2 separate regions of the Homo sapiens genome follow, and region 2 is linked to region 1. A link means that fine-mapping ties the variant in region 1 to the expression of a gene that starts in the linked region. Tissue or cell type: whole blood. Region 1 holds a variant in brackets; the other region holds the start of a gene. All regions are shown on one strand. Distances are from middle to middle.

Evidence for each region. PIP is the estimated chance that this variant, and not a neighbour inherited with it, causes the effect.
Region 2: it holds the start of PIP4K2A, and the variant in region 1 is fine-mapped to the expression of PIP4K2A in whole blood (TOPMed, PIP above 0.99).

Annotation. Positions count from the first base shown.
Region 1 is chr10:22,540,298-22,548,403 of GRCh38, forward strand. It overlaps PIP4K2A (phosphatidylinositol-5-phosphate 4-kinase type 2 alpha), which reads right to left. Exons shown (of 10, transcript NM_005028.5): 8 at 1,507-1,750. Among named protein-coding and RNA genes, the nearest start is that of LINC03027, 110 kb to the left of the region's middle. RefSeq lists an enhancer at 3,185-3,816. The variant C/T (reference allele first, on the strand shown) is at 3,945.
Region 2 is chr10:22,710,929-22,719,020 of GRCh38, forward strand. PIP4K2A (phosphatidylinositol-5-phosphate 4-kinase type 2 alpha) reads right to left here and starts at 3,650. Exons shown (of 10, transcript NM_005028.5): 1 at 3,255-3,650. The coding sequence starts at 3,398. RefSeq lists silencers at 2,386-2,495, 2,796-2,915, 3,086-3,165, 3,466-4,135 and enhancers at 3,296-3,904, 3,905-4,512.

The DNA.
Region 1 (8,106 bases):
CCCTAACAACTAAAAACATCATCACACCAGGGTATCAACAGTGGAGATCCAACGGTGGAACGGAGTCTTTTTTTTTTTTTAATTTGCATTTTCTTTAATAATTGTGTATTGCTTTGGTGTGAAGAAATATGCTATTTAAAAATACCCTATAAAACAGAACTAATTATGTACACTAATCCTTTACATCAAATGGTAGAACTGTTCATAATTCTCACTGGATACAGTATCAGAACTGGATAAAGGCATACATCCACTCCAATGTCTATTTTCTTTTTTTGAGACAGAGTTTTGTTCTTGTTGCCCAGGCTGGAGTGCAATGGTGCGATCTTGGCTCACAGCAACCTCCACCTCCCGAGTTCAAGTGACTCCTGCCTCAGCCTGCCGAGTAGCCGGGATTACAGGCATGCATCACTATGCCCAGCTAATTTCATATTTTTAGTAGAGATGGGGTTTCTCCATGTAGGTCAGGCTGGTCTCAAACTCATGACCTCAGGTGATCTGCCTGCCGCGGCCTCCCAAAGTGCTGGGATTACAGGCATGAACCACTGCGCCCGGCCCGTGTCTGTTTTCTATCCATTTCCAAAAATATGAACAGTAAGAAAAGTACATTTGACTATCTAATTTTCTGTGTTGAAGAAAACATTTTGGTGAGCAAAACAGAACAAAACAGAACTCAGATCCTCAGCTGATATGCCATTTGAGATTAAAAAACAACTGATGAGCCACAGTTTTTATTATTCAAAAACCAAGAAGCTGTTTTTATCCTATCACAAAAATATTTTGGTATTGTCACGGATAAGTTGCTAAGGTAGGATGTAATATTCAAATAACTGGTGCACCCAATCACCTGGATACGGTGGATTAAGATTTATCTGACTCTAGGGAAGAGGGCCATAGGCCCTTCCATGGGGGAGGACAGCAGAGCCAGACTCAGCAGCAAATCAGATTCCCACCCCACCCACAGGGCCCATCTTCACACACCCTTCACACCCCTGAGAGGGAGAGGGCTGTTGGTAATGACAAGAGGACAAGCTAAGGGTCACAGAGGATCACATGCATGTGCCTAGCTTAGACTCATGATGCTTTTGACTTAGATAAAAAAGATAACTAGGCAAAAACGTATTAATATTTTAAAGCATTTCTGATGTTATTTGTGAACATGTATGTGTGCATATGTACATGCATGTTGTGTTGTGTGTGCACGTACGTTGTATGCCAGTGTGTATGTGCATATGTACAGGTGTGTTGTACATGTATAGTATAGTTCGTGGTTTTGCTGTATTCCCTCAACATCACAGAATTCAAAGGTCCGATCGCCTTATGTTTCAGCACTGAGATCACGGTTAGCTTTAACATACTCTTGTCCCCAAATCCATTTCTTTGGAGTTTGGAGGATGAGTGCTGCCGGGCAGCACCCTCATAACTGGGGTAGTGCTTACTGGTAGATAACAAGGCCAAAGTCAAACCACTTCACATGCAAAAAGGGTCCACAGTAATCAAACTTACTTTCATGGCACTTAATTCCATAGACGTCGATGTTCGGATCGAACTCCCCGGGAGCCAGGGGTGGTGAGCTGTTCAGTGTATTCCCGGGGCTATCTGGGGGGGTTCCCACCGGGTGGGTGCCATCGCTCTCGCCCTCCTCCTCCCCATCGTTCTCCTCACACTCCACTTCCTCCTGTTCGGCTCTCTCCACATCATGAATTCCCACCAGCAGACTGTAGTCCATGAGCTTCAGCTGGGCCAGAAACTGGGGACAGAGGCAACAGGGTGAGTCAGCCACACCTTAAACATAAAAGCCAACATTTAAAGGAGACAAGCTCGGGTGACACCCAGAGGGAAGGCTGTGGGGTGGGGCAGCAGAGGCGCCGGGTGCCTCCTTCACGATGCTCTTACACTCCTGGGCTGTTTCTCTATCTAAAATGTAGCCTCACACTTCAGGCTGGCTCAGAGCTCAGGCTGTTTACCCTGGAATGCCACACTGGATGCGGAGAGGTGTGTATCTATCACAGGGTGGCTGGATTTCACCAGATAGCAAGGAGCATGACCAGTAAGAGATGCGGAGAGAGACTGGGAGAGAGAGCAAGTTCCTCCCAATGATTAAGACTGGCTAATGGGGAAACCCAGGCATCTCCCAAGTAGCTTCCAGCGGAGTCTCTGGTGGTAGTTCAGGAAAGCACCCTGGAATTCAGCATGCTCTGTGGAGGCGATTGTTACGCTGTTGTAAATAAGTAAAAGTAAAGGCACTGTGTCCACATCTGGTGAGTAATGCAGTCCTGTCCAGGTCAACAAGGTGCTTTCCACGTGTGCTTTCCACGAAGCACCACACATCCAGGATTCCTGTCCTCCCTCTCCTCCTCCAGCCGTGGCTAGAACATAATGTGGGGGCAAGACCCAGCTCTGTGTGTTTGGCTACTCCTGTCTGCCCAGTTCTTTGACTTTTCAGATCACGATTTCTCTTTGTTTCCCTTTTCTTATTTGAGACCTTCAGCACAACGTTCCAATGTTGCCATAAGATGTGGATGGTTGTGCTGAGTGCAAACAGTGGCAGCCCATCTGCGGGCTGGACCCAACTGGCTCCCTGACCCCGTGGCTGGCTGGCTCTGCACAGGATCCTGTTCCACTCCGACCTTGGGCTCAGGGTCCAGGAAGGTTCACGGTCCTGGCTCTGGAAGGACTCAGTGCCACCTCGCTGGGGAATGCAGAGTGGCTGAGCAGCCTCTGGGCTATGCTGATAGAATTTAGGAAGCAGATGTCCTCATGCAAAGGGCAAACAGATAAAATCACAGGTCTTGAAGTTCTGGCTAAAAATGAAATCAATTTGCTAAGCCCCGCAGAGTCATTTCTCCTCAGCCTGCTGGGAAGGAGTTCTGTCTCGAAACTGAATGAGAAGCCCCGATTCCTTACAGACGAGGAGAGGACCCCTGGGCACAGGGCTATCCCACTCTCCAGCTGGTTCCTGGTGCCTGCAATTCTCCATCAGCCAGCACCCCGCTCAGCCCAGCAAACTGGCCAGAGCTCCCACTTCGCTGCCTTCCCAACAGGAATCCCCCAGGGCCAGCTATATCTTCCCCAATTGTTTTGAGCTCAAAAAAGAGAAATCACACAAATCTTACACTCAAATATTTAAGCAAAGTGGGAGAAACCTGTTTGTTTAAAAATAGAGGCAAACCCCTCGTGGAAACAGCATGGGGCTCCTGCGTTCAGCTTTCTGGGTCCCAGAGAAGAGGGGAAGCCACTGCTCATCCCCCCTGGTCTTTCCCCAAACTCCCCCATTACAGTAAACATGAGAACTGACTTTCCACTTGCACCTCTCTCTGCCAGATTCCTTTCCAGCAGTCAGAGACTGCGCATCCTCCCCTAGAATCTCGGCAGCTGCCAGGCTGTGAGGTGCACCTGGCCGAGATCACCTGGCTGGGATCATGTTTGTGGGGGCGGCTGCGGGGAGAAATCTACAGTGGTGGAAGGCTCACTTGAGTCCTCCACCCGCACGGTGAAGCCAGCCAGGGAGCTGGGTCTCGGGTACCAGCTCCGCTATACATGGGCCTGTGGATGTGGAAGAGAACTGGGCACTCCGGGGTATAGGGACAGGTGACAAGATCCAAGGCAGGGGGCAGGCTCTCCGTGTGAGACAGCAGCCAGGCTCAGCAGCTGGACGAGAGTGCAAGGATTCAGATCCAAGGAGGGGTGAATTCAGGGCCTGTTCTGAGCCTGTACTCTCTGCTCTCTATCAGCTACCTCTGGAGGCTGCCTTAAAGCAGCTTTCCCCTCTCCTTTTCTTCGCAACCCTAGGAGGAAGGTAACGAGTTAAAATCAGCTGGCATCGGAGGCCCTCCACACATGACTCTGCGCTGTGGGTCTCCGGAGGGTTAGGTGGCCAGCAGCAGCACACATGGCACTGCTGTGATCATGGAACCTGCTTTCCCGTCAGAATGACCTGTGGG[C/T]CTGGGGTTTCAGAAGCCTATTTGAAAAATACTGCATTGTAAGTACCCAGTTGTCTTCTCCAATGCTTGAGGGGTATGGTGGGGGTGGGGGTGCTTATGGTGGGCCCACTTCTCCCTGCCCTGTTGTTCCAAGGCCTCTGGGCTGCTGGAGGACTGGGTCAGGGTCTCCTTGGCCACCTCTGCTGCCCCTCCCAAGCCTAGCACGGTGCCTGGCTCTGCTCCCTAGATCTACGGCTTCCCTGGCCTCTCTCTCTACACCTGGAAGCCTCTCTGGAGCCAGGCCAGGCCCTGCTCGGCTTGAGAGGTGACAGGGAAAAGGCCCCCCTTCTGCCCACACCTGCTCCCTCTGGGTGCTTGGAAGGTCCCTGTGAAGTGGTAAAGGCTGAGTGGTGCCTCAACCACCCCTCCAGTCCTCTGCAAAGGGCAGAAGTTTTCAAAATGTGAACCTGATCCCATCCTGTTCTGCTTAACACATTTCCATAGTGCCGCGTTTCTCACAGGGCACAAACAAAACTCACATGGCCCAGGAGGCCTGGAGAGCTTGGCCCCATCCACTTCTGGGGCCCACTTGAGCTCTGCTCTGCCCACTTCCTGGGCTTCTCTGGGGGCAGGTACTTCCTCCTGTGCCTTCAGGTCTCAGCTGCGGGGCACTGCACAGGGCAGCACAGCCCCAGAGTCTGGGTGTTTAGGGCACCGCACACTCCTCCCCAGTGACACGGGGCCTCGCTGCACATTCATTTTGTTGGAGTATTTGAGCGACTTCTCTCTTTCCCAAGCAAGGCAGCCCCAAACGGGGCTCTAAGGTTTTGGCTTTCACTGCATTCCCGAATCCCGGCAGGCAGAGGGCTCGGGAAAGTATTCGGCACTTGTTGGACAAGTGAATGGGATGCTTGTTACTTCTTCCCTATCCGTCCCAACTCTCCCTAATTCTCCCCAACCTGCTTCCAGCAGGAAGTAACTACCAAAGCCAAATACAAACAACAAAGCAACAACAGAAAACTTTTGTCTGAGACTGCATGAGGCAACAGCTCTGCAAAGGAAGCGCAAGGTGACCATTTAAGACGATTACCTTAACAGGAAGGTCTACTGGTTGACCTTCAAGTATGTTTTAGTTACAGAAGTCAGGGCTGTCTGTGATTAACTTGCCAAAGGGCAGAGAGGGAAGGGGACAACTGGGACTGGCCAGCCGCACTCACCAGGGTGAGCCTCCAGGGCCCAGCCTCCCCTGGCACCCCATCTGGGTTCCTCGCCACACCGGGCAGCCCAGAGTAATTTTCCTGGGCCTCAGGCCTGTGGTCAGACCGCTTACTGTCGTCTTCCAGTGAGGAAGAAATAAAGGTGCAGTCAACTCCTAGCACAACCCAAAAACCATCAGCATGATGCAAAATGCATCTCTAGGTAAGAAGCTGTTCTGAGGCACCCAAGAAGACTGAGAAAATTGCAGTCACAATGGGCATTGCACATGTTTTCTTTTTGTTTAAGAGATGGGATCTTGCTCTGTTGCCCAGGCTGGAGTACAGTGGTATGATCACAGATCACTGTAGCCTTGAACTCCTGGGCTCAAGCAATCCTCCTGCCTCACCCTCCCGAGGAGCTGGATTACAGAGGTGCACCACCATGCCCAGCTAATTATTTTTTATTTTGTGTGGAGACAGGATCTTGCTGTGTTGTCCAGGCTGGTCTCAAACACCTGGCCTCAAGTGATCCTCCTGCCTTGGCCTCCCAAACTGCTGGGATTATTATTCATGATTTCAAGTCTCTGAGACTGAGGTAGAAATGGGAAAAACCAAATATGGCACAGTGGTTAAAAGGACAGGTCATGCTGACCAGGGAGACCCATTCAAGAAACAAAGAGTCTGATTTGGTCTCACTCGCCAGTTCCATGCTTGACGAGTTCGCCTCCTGGATCTTCAGTCATTCTGACTTTAAAATTGGACAATGCCACTCACCTCACAGGGGTGTCGAAGAATTAAGATAATGAAACTGAGAGAAAAAATATGGTGCCTCACACAAAATAATGGAAGCTGTTATTTGTAACTGGCAATGTTTTGATTATGGTAGAAGTCTTTTTTTAATATCAAGATTTCAATTTAAACAGGTTTCAGTTTGTAGACCGGGGGAAAAAGAACCATATGGAAAAGCCTGTTAATTCACGGGCTCTCATCTTCAAAACGTTAAATTTCTTTTTGAGACAGGGTCTGGCTCTGTCACCCAGGCTGGAGTGCAGTGGTGTGATCATGGCTCACTGAAGCCTCAAACTCTTGGACTCAAGGGATCCTCCTGCTTCAGCTTCCCTAGTAGCTAGGACCACAGGCATGCACCACCACGTTTGGCTAATTTTTAAAACTTTGTAGAGATGGGGTCTCACTATGTTGCCCAGGCTGTTCTCAAACTCCTGGGCTTAATCAATCCTCCTGCCTCAGCCTCCCAAAGTGCTGGGATTACAGGCATGAGCCACCACAACAGGCCTCAAACTTTACTTTAAATCTGTTCTGAGGTAGAGTGAATGAAGTGTGGCAATACATCTGAGATTTTTCGTGGGCTGGAAGCTCGCAGATGGAAAGAGAAGACAGAAAGGGGGCGTGGGCTTCACTGCGGGGTCTGCTTCCGGCTCACTGCAGGAAAACAGTATATATTTGTTCTTTAAGTTTTAAGAACATAAGATTTCAAAGTGTGAAGATTTTTCAGTCTTTATTTAGGTCCCCTGCTTTTCTTCCTTTCCAGCTTCTCAGAAACCACCTGCTGGACCTCACATCTGCCTCTTTTTCCCTCAGAATATCCCTTCTCATCTAATTCCTTACTAATTGAGTCCTTGCTGTGACAAATCTTTGAGCTACAATCTTCCTTGAGATCTTTACGAGTCTAAGACTATCCTTCACAATGGTTCTCAACTGATTTATTTAACTCTACTAACACACCGTGTTCTACCACATCACCATCTCCCAACATATCTGTGAAGTAGAATTAAAATGCCAGTCAGCCCTGTTTAACGGTTATATCTTACCACTTGTTAAAAATTATAATCCTCCTTCGAAGCAATTATCAGAAAACAAAGCCTCCACTGTGCTCTCACAGGTATTTTTAACTTGTGTTTATGTCAGAGTAGTTAAGGACTGTGCCCTCTGAGGGCCTGACGCCCCAGTCTGAATTTAGAAGCTTTGTGCCTTTGAGCAAATTACATAGGGTCTCTGGGCTCGGCTTCCCCATTCATCAAACTAGGGTAGGGGCAGGACCACTGTCAAGGGGCTGTTTTGAGAATGACAAGTGACACTGCATGGGAAGGACTTGGGCTCGATGTGCTCCATAAATGCTGCCACCCATCCCACTACTCCCACCGCCCTATCCCCTCTCACCCATCTCCATGGATGGGGGGCTATAAACCTCAGACAACTGAAATGCCCTGTGAGGGGGTACTCCTGGATGCCACAGAGGGAGAACAGTTTTGCATCATGTGAGTCAATGAGAGGAGAGACCAGGGTTGATTCTTCAGGGCCGTGATCAGAATTGACAAAACACAGGGCAGAAGGCAAAAGTGCCTGTCACTCCTCATACACCGATCTGTGTGTGTGTTTGTGTGCAGAAAAAGACTCACCTGTGTTACGTGCAAAGCTATGTGGATGAAAATACCCAGCATGGCATAGGAATAGAACAGGGCTGCTGTTACAGAAAAACAGCAACTAGAACCTCAGATGAAAATTAGTTTTCCTAAAATCTAGATTTCTTGAGCTGTAATACACTCAGATCTCCTACTCGAGGCATTAAGGAAAAACAGCAACAACAACAAAAAACTGCAATGAAACTCCAATGGGTCAGTCAGCTAAATTAGAAAGCATGGAACTGATGAAAACAGAAAACTCGATTAAATTCTAGCCTCATTATCAAGATCAGATGTCAAGCTACTTCACCATAATTACCTGCTTAAAAATTTAATGATGGTTCTGCATAAATTTCAAAACTAAAGACACTGTTATCAGCTATTGAGAATATTTTTAAATGAAAGGATGTTTTACACCCTGCCTCCATTTCAACGAAACAGCTAAGTGCTTGAGCCATGTATGGGATTAGACTATAGAGTCCTCTAATCAATGGTATTATTAGAGACAACAAAAGAGCTAAGAGGATCCTTCTGTAATTCAACTGTAAATTTGAACTGCTTGAATTA
Region 2 (8,092 bases), 170 kb after region 1:
ATTTAAAACAAGTCTTGGCTCATATCATTCAACATCCTCCCCACACTATTAAAATATCATCTTAAGACGCTTACTGTTTGATCATTTTTAGTTTAATTCTAAATGTAACAAGACAAAACTGCCTTAAGTCTTTTCCTTTATGTATTCAGTTATATTCTCTGCTTAAAATACTTAAAAATTGGCACTGATCCATTCACTGATGGGTATTTTAAGTTACAAAGCAGTAACATATCAAATTAACCACACAATGGCAGGCTTACTCCCGACTATGACCATTGCCCAAATCAAGATTTTCATTACCACCTCAATGGACTTGAACATTTTCACCTTAATTGCAAGTTGTTATGTTTCAATCAAATCGACTTTGGCTTAATAGACTGCAATGCAGTTCAGCTACATTCAATATAACAAACCCTTAGTTCACAGTCTCTTAAAATCACCATAGATTTCCTTCCCCTGTAGTCAAGGTCTTGAAAATTCCCTGAATGTTGCTGCATTTGGAAGGTTATAATAGTAAGACAACTTTTATATAGTATTCTACAAATCCTAGTATAACACTGTGCACCTAGTAGACTGAAAAAACAGAATCTTGAGTTAGACTTGGAAATCATCCAAACAACCTCAGTTCACAGATGCAAACACTGATGCCAAAACCTGACCTTAACATGCCCAAGGTCAACAGTTAGAATTTAAGAAAAACTTAAAGCGCAGATTCAATGAGCGTTTTACCACAGTATGTGGAAGATGCTCGTATACAACACCATGCTTGTTTGTTCTTAAGACTGCTGACATATTTATTCTCACATTATACTATAAACTTTGGTGCACAGAAGGTCATATAAAACATTTATCTAATATCAGACATTGTCACCTAAAATGAAATCAAACCAGAAATACATGGCATCTAAGGGTTTTAGATTTCATGTTTATATTACACCTCCATTCTTTTTTCAAAAATAATATAGTAAAGAAAATAGACATTTTGAAAAAAAAGGCTGTGAAACAGACCTTTCTTATGTCAACTCAGAGCCCTCAAAATAAAGACAGTTGGATAAAAATATTAGAGGTGTTTTAGCAATTCTTCCCACAGTAGCTGGCACTGTATGTGCCCAATATATATCTGTTGAATGAGTAACATGCTTACATTTATATGAAATGGAAACTTCACTCCTCTGGTTGTGGATACTTAGAACTGCCAACTTCTCTTGAGAGCAAAAGAAAATAACACCAAATGTACTATTTACAAGTCATACACTATGAAACACTTAAGTAGTTTCAAAATATTTCCAATTAGCAAGAAACTCTAAAACAAATGTAGCAATTCATAAATATAAGGTAGCAACGTAAGTGGTTACAGTAAAACATACACAATTACAAGATTTTTTAAGGCAAACTGGAATTCAGACGAGTTCCCAGAAAGCACACTCTTTTTCGGCAGCATATTGTTGACACTACCTTACTAAATTAAACCCCGAGACAGAAACACTCTCCTGACCAAAACACCAGAACTCCAAAGGAGATAAAAGCACCATAAATATGAGTAAGCACTACAGTATTCATCCTTTTTTTAAATTGTAAGTTTCTATTCTAGTAATAAGGGACCCAAAAACTACTAACATAAATAATAAAAGAGCTTAACAAAATTATACATAACTCTACATTGTAAACTTATTACTTAGGAAAAATTGCATTTCATTTTCCGTAATAAAACTTGAGAGAGGAGTTTTTGGTGCAGTAATGCATGCTCTTGTAACAACTTACATTCCCAAATAGCTAAAGAAGTTGCCAGGAAGTTAAAATGAACTTCAGTGAGTCAGTCATTAAGCTGGATAAAAATAATCATTTCTCAACTTTTCCAAAAACACTCACTCCATGCAAACACGATCGATCCTGATACTGTTTTGCCCTTCCCCCTGCTCAGCTTGGGGAAGAAAAATACAAAAACGATGCTTTTAGGCATTTTAAACAACTTCACTACATTGAGGGTGTGTGTGTGTGTGTGTGTGTGTGTGTCTGTGTGTGTGTTTTCCGAAAAACCAGCATGGTTTTCTGTCATTTCCATTACGCTGAAAAGGACATACAGACATCCATCGAAATCAAAAGCAGGGAAAGCGAACTTACACTTTTCCCCAGATGCTAAGTGACTGCAGTGGCTAAGGTCATGGTCAAAATTCACAGCTCGTTTAAACTTTCCTGGCTGAGCCAACAGCTCCGATCATGTTTCCTGATCCTATCGAAGTGGATTAAAACTGCAGGAGTTTCTCGCTGTCAGATCAGCAGGAGGCTATTTCAGACCCTCGAACCGCAGTCCGCATAGCCCGCAGCGGCGCATCCTCCAATCCCCGACTGTGCGTGACGCTAACCTTTCCACGCGTTCTCCAGCCTTTCCCACACCCCCCACAGCGGGTGCGGCCAACTCGGGACCCCCTCCGCCCGCGCCCGCCGGGACCCCCGCCTGCTGTCCCCGCCCCGGCCGCCCTTCCGCAGTCGGTGACTTCTGCCTGACTCCCCAAAGTGGGGGGAGGCGACGAAGGGAGGAAGACTCCCCGCCAAGGGCTCTCCAGCCCGCACAGCGGCAGGGCGATGCGGGAGAAGCGCAGGGATGCCGCCCGACGCCAGAGCCATATTTACATCGGCTGCTGCTTTGCCAAAAAGCCGACTTGTGCCCAGTAATATTGCCTTTAAAGGAAAAAGAAAGGACCTAAGCACTAAAGCTGCTGCCCCAAATCTGCTCGCGCTCCGGTATCCTCGCCCCAGTGCCCCAGTGGGAGGCTCGCACGCGCCCAGCCCGGGACAGGTACACCTGCCCGCAAGCGGAAGACGCGGGCGCCGCGCGGCCCCCACACCGGGTAGCGGTCGCCCGGACCCGGCCCCCAGCAGCTCCCGCCGGGGCTGACAGCCGAGGCGCCGTGCCCCGCACAAACTTCCTACCTCCCAGGCTGCGGGGACCGACCTGCGGGCGGGCGGGCGGACCGGGGGCGGCACTGGCACCCACCGTGAGACTCACATGCACACGGGACCCCCGACCCGCACCGGGCCATAGATCTAAAGGGGACGCAAGTGGTGGTGCCTGGGCGGCCCAGAGGGCTGGGGGCACGCGCCGCGGGGCTGGGGGCTTCGAGGCGGGCGAGCAGCCGGAGGTCCAGGGCTGACTCCGGCTCCCCGCCCCGCAGCAGCTGCAGCCGGAGGAGGAGGGGAACGAGGAGGAAGAGGAGGAGGAGGAAGGGGACCGCGCGCCGCAGCTGAGCCCTTACCGAGTGGTTTACCCCCCACATGAGGACGCTGAGCAGCGGGTCGCTGGCCCGAAACAGCTTCACTTTCTGCGCTACGAAGTGCTTCTTCTTGGTCTTGGTCTTGCTCGCCAGGACAGAGGACCCTAGGTTGCCGGGGGTCGCCATGGCCGCCTCCTATGTCCCCTCCACCGCCGTGCTCCCGAGGCCGGGGACCCGCCCTCTCTACACCCCGGCCCGGGGAGGCAGCCGCATCCCCCCGGCGGCGGCCCCGGCGCGCCGCGCTCCGCTCCGCCCGCCGCCGCCGGCGCGCTCAGCCCCACTCGGCTCGCTCCGCCCGCTCGGCCCGGCAGACTGCGCTCGGCTCGCGCCCCGGCCCGTATCCTGCGCCCGCCGCGGATCCGCGCTCAGCCCGCGGCTGGACCCGGCGCGCGGCGAGCGGCTTCCGCGTTGGGCGCCGGCGTCATGACGCAGGGGGCGGGCGGGCAGGCGGGAGGCGGCTGCGGCGCCGCGGGCGGGGCACTGGGTGCGGGGCGCGGGGCGCGGCAGCTGGACCGTTAGGCTGCGCCTTCCCGCCCCGGCTCCGCTGCAGCCGGGCCGCCCCCTGTGCGCGGGCGACCTCCGGGCGTTCGCTCCCTGCCCGCGGAGGAGGCCGTGGGTTGCGAGCGGGAGCCTGGGGACCCCGGCTAGGCGTCCCCTGCCGCTCCCCAAGGAGGGAGAGGACAGAGTGGGCAGAGTGAGGAGGTTGGGGAGAGGAGCCCCCAGGCGTCGATCAGGCGAAGGAGGGAGGCTCATGCACTCACCCACGCCACGAGTCAGGAGACCCAGCCAGGTGTGAAATGCTGCAGGGAGACCAGGGCTTCCCAGCACCGAGGGGAAGGACCCGGGCACATTGCCGGGTCAGTCCCTGAAATGAACTTAATACTTTTGTGCGGATAACCGTCTGGCCTTTCAGACCCTCGATATGGGCCTCCTGGAGCCATTCAAGAGGGAGACTCCCACGTAATAGGCTGGGCTGTCACTGCCAACCCACTCCGTGCCCGGGGCAGGAACCTCGGACCTCATCGAGAGCCCTTGGCTTAACCAGTAGAATCATGCCCCAAAGTGCACCTTCTTCCAATCCATCACTATGGTACTTGCCATCCCTGCCTGTTTTCCAGTGCACTCACCGTCCGTGGAAATCTGTTCACCGTCTTCCTCCAGATACACCTAAATGTAGCCCTTATTATGCTGAGAATACTTGGCCTACCTCAGGAAGCTGCCATTCCAAGTATGTCTAAAACCCTGCTGCCCCCATATCGTCCTTGCAGTCGTCATCCTGTGCTATTTACTCTGACCCAGCTCACCAGTCCTCACGGAGTAGGTTCTTGGAAACTGTCACCTTAAGCAAAACAACATATAACAAAACCAAATTTGCCATAGGCTGACATATAAAAAAAGAGTTAAGTTCCTACAGCATTATTTCCGGTTACAAAAACATCACCGAACTTCAAAGTAAAAATTCAAAACACTTCTAATATTAAACATTAAAATAAATGTGAGCTATACCTCTTTTTTATTTTTATTTTTTCCCTTGAGATAGGGTCTCGCTGTGTCAACCAGGCTGGGGGTGCAGTGGTGCAATCACAGCTCACTGCAGGCTCTACTTCCCCAGACTCAGGTGATTCTCCCACTTCAGACTCCCCAGTAGTTGAGACTACAGGCGCGCACCACCAAGCCTGGATAAACTTCTTGTATTTTTGGTAGAGATGGGGTTTCACCATGCTGCCCAGGTTGGTCTCGAACTCCTGGGCTTAAGGAATCTGCCCACCTTGGCCTCCTAAAGTGCTGGGAATACAGGCACCAGCCACTGCACCTGGCCTACCTACATTTTTTAAAGATTGATAAAAACAAGATAATGGTTTGCCAAATTTCTAGTGATTAAGTGAGCGATGGTTGCTGTGGTGCTGGGTTAAGTCAAGGAATAAGTGTTTGCAAAGCAAAAGTTGCCTGTAGGACCTGCTGCTACCATGAAATTCAAAAACAATCACAAATATGGTAGCTGAGTGCACTCCTATCTCATTTATTGTCGTGCATTTTTATGATTAATGTACACTTACATATTTTTATTTTACAGTCATTTGTTTCACGGATTTATTCATTTTTCCAACTCATTTATTCCAGTTCAAGGTCACAGATAGTGGGAGCCTTATCCCAGCTGCTCAGCTTGGGCAAAAGGTGGGAACCATCCCTGGATAGGATGCCATTCTGTTGCAAGACACACACACACACACACACACACACACACACACCACACACACACACACACACCCCTACACTCACTTAAACTGGGACCATTTAGGAAGGGGGCAGTGATTCATGCCTGTAGTCCCAGCACTTTGGGAGGCATGAGGCAGGTGGACTGCTTGAGCCCAGGAGTTGGAGACCAGCCTGAGCAATATGGTGAAACCCCATCTCTACCATAAATACAAAAATTAACCAGGCATGGTGGTACACACCTGTAGTCTCAGCTATTCTGGAGGCTGCAGTAGGCGGATTGCTTGAGCCCAGGAGTTGGAGGCTGCAGTGAGCTGTGATAATGCCACTACACTCTAGCTTGGGTAATAGATGGAGACCCCGTCTCTTAAAACAAAAAAAAAAAAAGAAAAGAAAAACTACTGGTATCATGTAGACAAGCCTATGAACTGAACGTGCATGTCTTTAAGATGTGAGAGGAAACCAAGGTACCCAAAGAAAACTCTTGCAGGCACGAGGAGAACCTGCAAATACAAACAGTGGTCCCGGCTAGAAATCCATTTTTTTCTCATCAACATTATAACAAAACAACATTGAACAAAATGACAGTATTTGAGGACCCGCTGTAAGTTGTCTGTTGTCATTATTACTCCACTCAAATATAGTAGATACCTTCTGTGCCCTTGGCAGACTGCTTGGTCCTGTCAGGGAGATGAAGGATGACAGGCCATTATCCCTTTAGGATCTTGAGTCTCCTCAGGGGTTGAGGGGAGGTCATGTGGTCACCTTCATTTGCTCCTATTCTTTCTTTGACTGTTTTTTAAGTCCCCTCGTCGTAATTTCCTGCTTGCTTTCATCCAAAATGATATCTGCTTCTCCAGCATCAACCATCACTGCTCTTAGTGGTTTAAAAAAGCCCAAAACCTAAATTTTTAGTGAGACATCACGGGGACTGAGCTGTAGCTCTCCCACTTACTTGAGCAAATCACTTAACCTCTCCCAGCCTCGGGTTCTTTATGTTAACAGTAACTATCATCAGACACAAATGTCACTTTAGGAACTATTTTGAACCTAGTAATATAATCCTCCCCTACCTACATTATAGGATGTTTGTTAGAATCAAAATCAATAGTAGATAATGGCAATGAAAACCCTTTGTAAACCAGACAACACAATAGAAAATGTAGAGTGCTTGCAAGTAACTCATAAACTCTTCCCCGACCCCAGAGAAATGCCTGGTTGCACATTTGTACATCATTTTTCCACAGGCATCTTTTAAAAGTGTCTAAAACCATCTGGGCATGCTGGCTGATGCCTGTAATCCCAGCACTTTTGGGACGCCAAGATGGGAGAATCACTTGAGCCCAGGAGTTCAAGGGTAGCCTGGATATAATAGCGAGATCTCATTTCTACCAAAAAAAAAAAAAAAAATTTAAATTAGCTGCACATGGTGGTATGCATCCTGTGGTCTCAGTTACTTGGGAGGCTGAGGCAGGAGGATCACTGAGGCTGCAGTGAGCTATGACTGCACCACTGCACTCCAGCCTGGGCAACAGAGCAAGACCCTATCTCAAAAAAAAAAAAAAAGATATCTAAAGCCAAGTTTGACATCTTTCCCCATCCACAAGTTACTTTATTTCTTGTATTATATTGGAAATGGCATTCATATCACTCGGTTACCCCAGCTGGAAGTTCTTTTATTTAACAAATTTTCATTGGCCAGGCTTGAAGGCTTACCATCATCATCAATTATTGCCTTTCACCACCACCCAACCTAAACTCCTTTATTGGATCCTGCCCTTGAAAACAATTAGACTCAAAAATCCTCTCTTCCCTGATGCTTTCCTGATCCTCCTAATTCAAATTCATCCTTCCACCTCAGTGCTTCCATAGCATTTATTTGTTTCATAATAGCTATATTATACTTAATTTTATATTAATAATGCAAGACAATAGGCTTGCTGCAACTGCCAAAAAACTGAATTTAGTGATGACAGAGTGCTGAATGACCCTAGAGGAAGAGGGGATGGATACCTGTTGTTAGGAGAGGCTCCGCCTTAGGAAAGCAGCAATCTGTGGGTGGGTGCAGAGGCCAATAGCACCATGTGAGGGACAGATAGGGGCATAGTGTGGTATTTTTAGGTAGTTATGAGGAGACTTGCAGGTTTCAAAGGACAGAATTTCTGGTGATTTAACATGTTTTGAAAGCCATCTAACACAATACCATTCACAAATACATCATTAAATTATTTATTTATTTATTTTATTATTTATTTTTTTTGAGACAGGGTCTCACTCTGACACCCAGGCTGGAGTGCAGTGGCAAGAACACAGCTCACTGCAGCCTTGAACTCCTGACCTCAAGCCATCTCCTGCCTTATTAAATGATTTTGCCAATAACCTTTCACATTAGCTTTGTGCTCTGTGGAGGGTATGTGTGATGCAAGAGTTCTAGAGTCACAGAAATGACCTTAGCTCACGCCTGTCATCCCAGAGCTTTGGCAGGCCAAGGCAGGAGGATCGCTTGAGCCCAGGAGTTTGAGGTTACAGTGAGCTCTGATTGTGCCACTGCACTCCAGCCTGGGCAACAGAGTGAGACCGTCTCTAAAAATAAGAAAGAAAAGGAA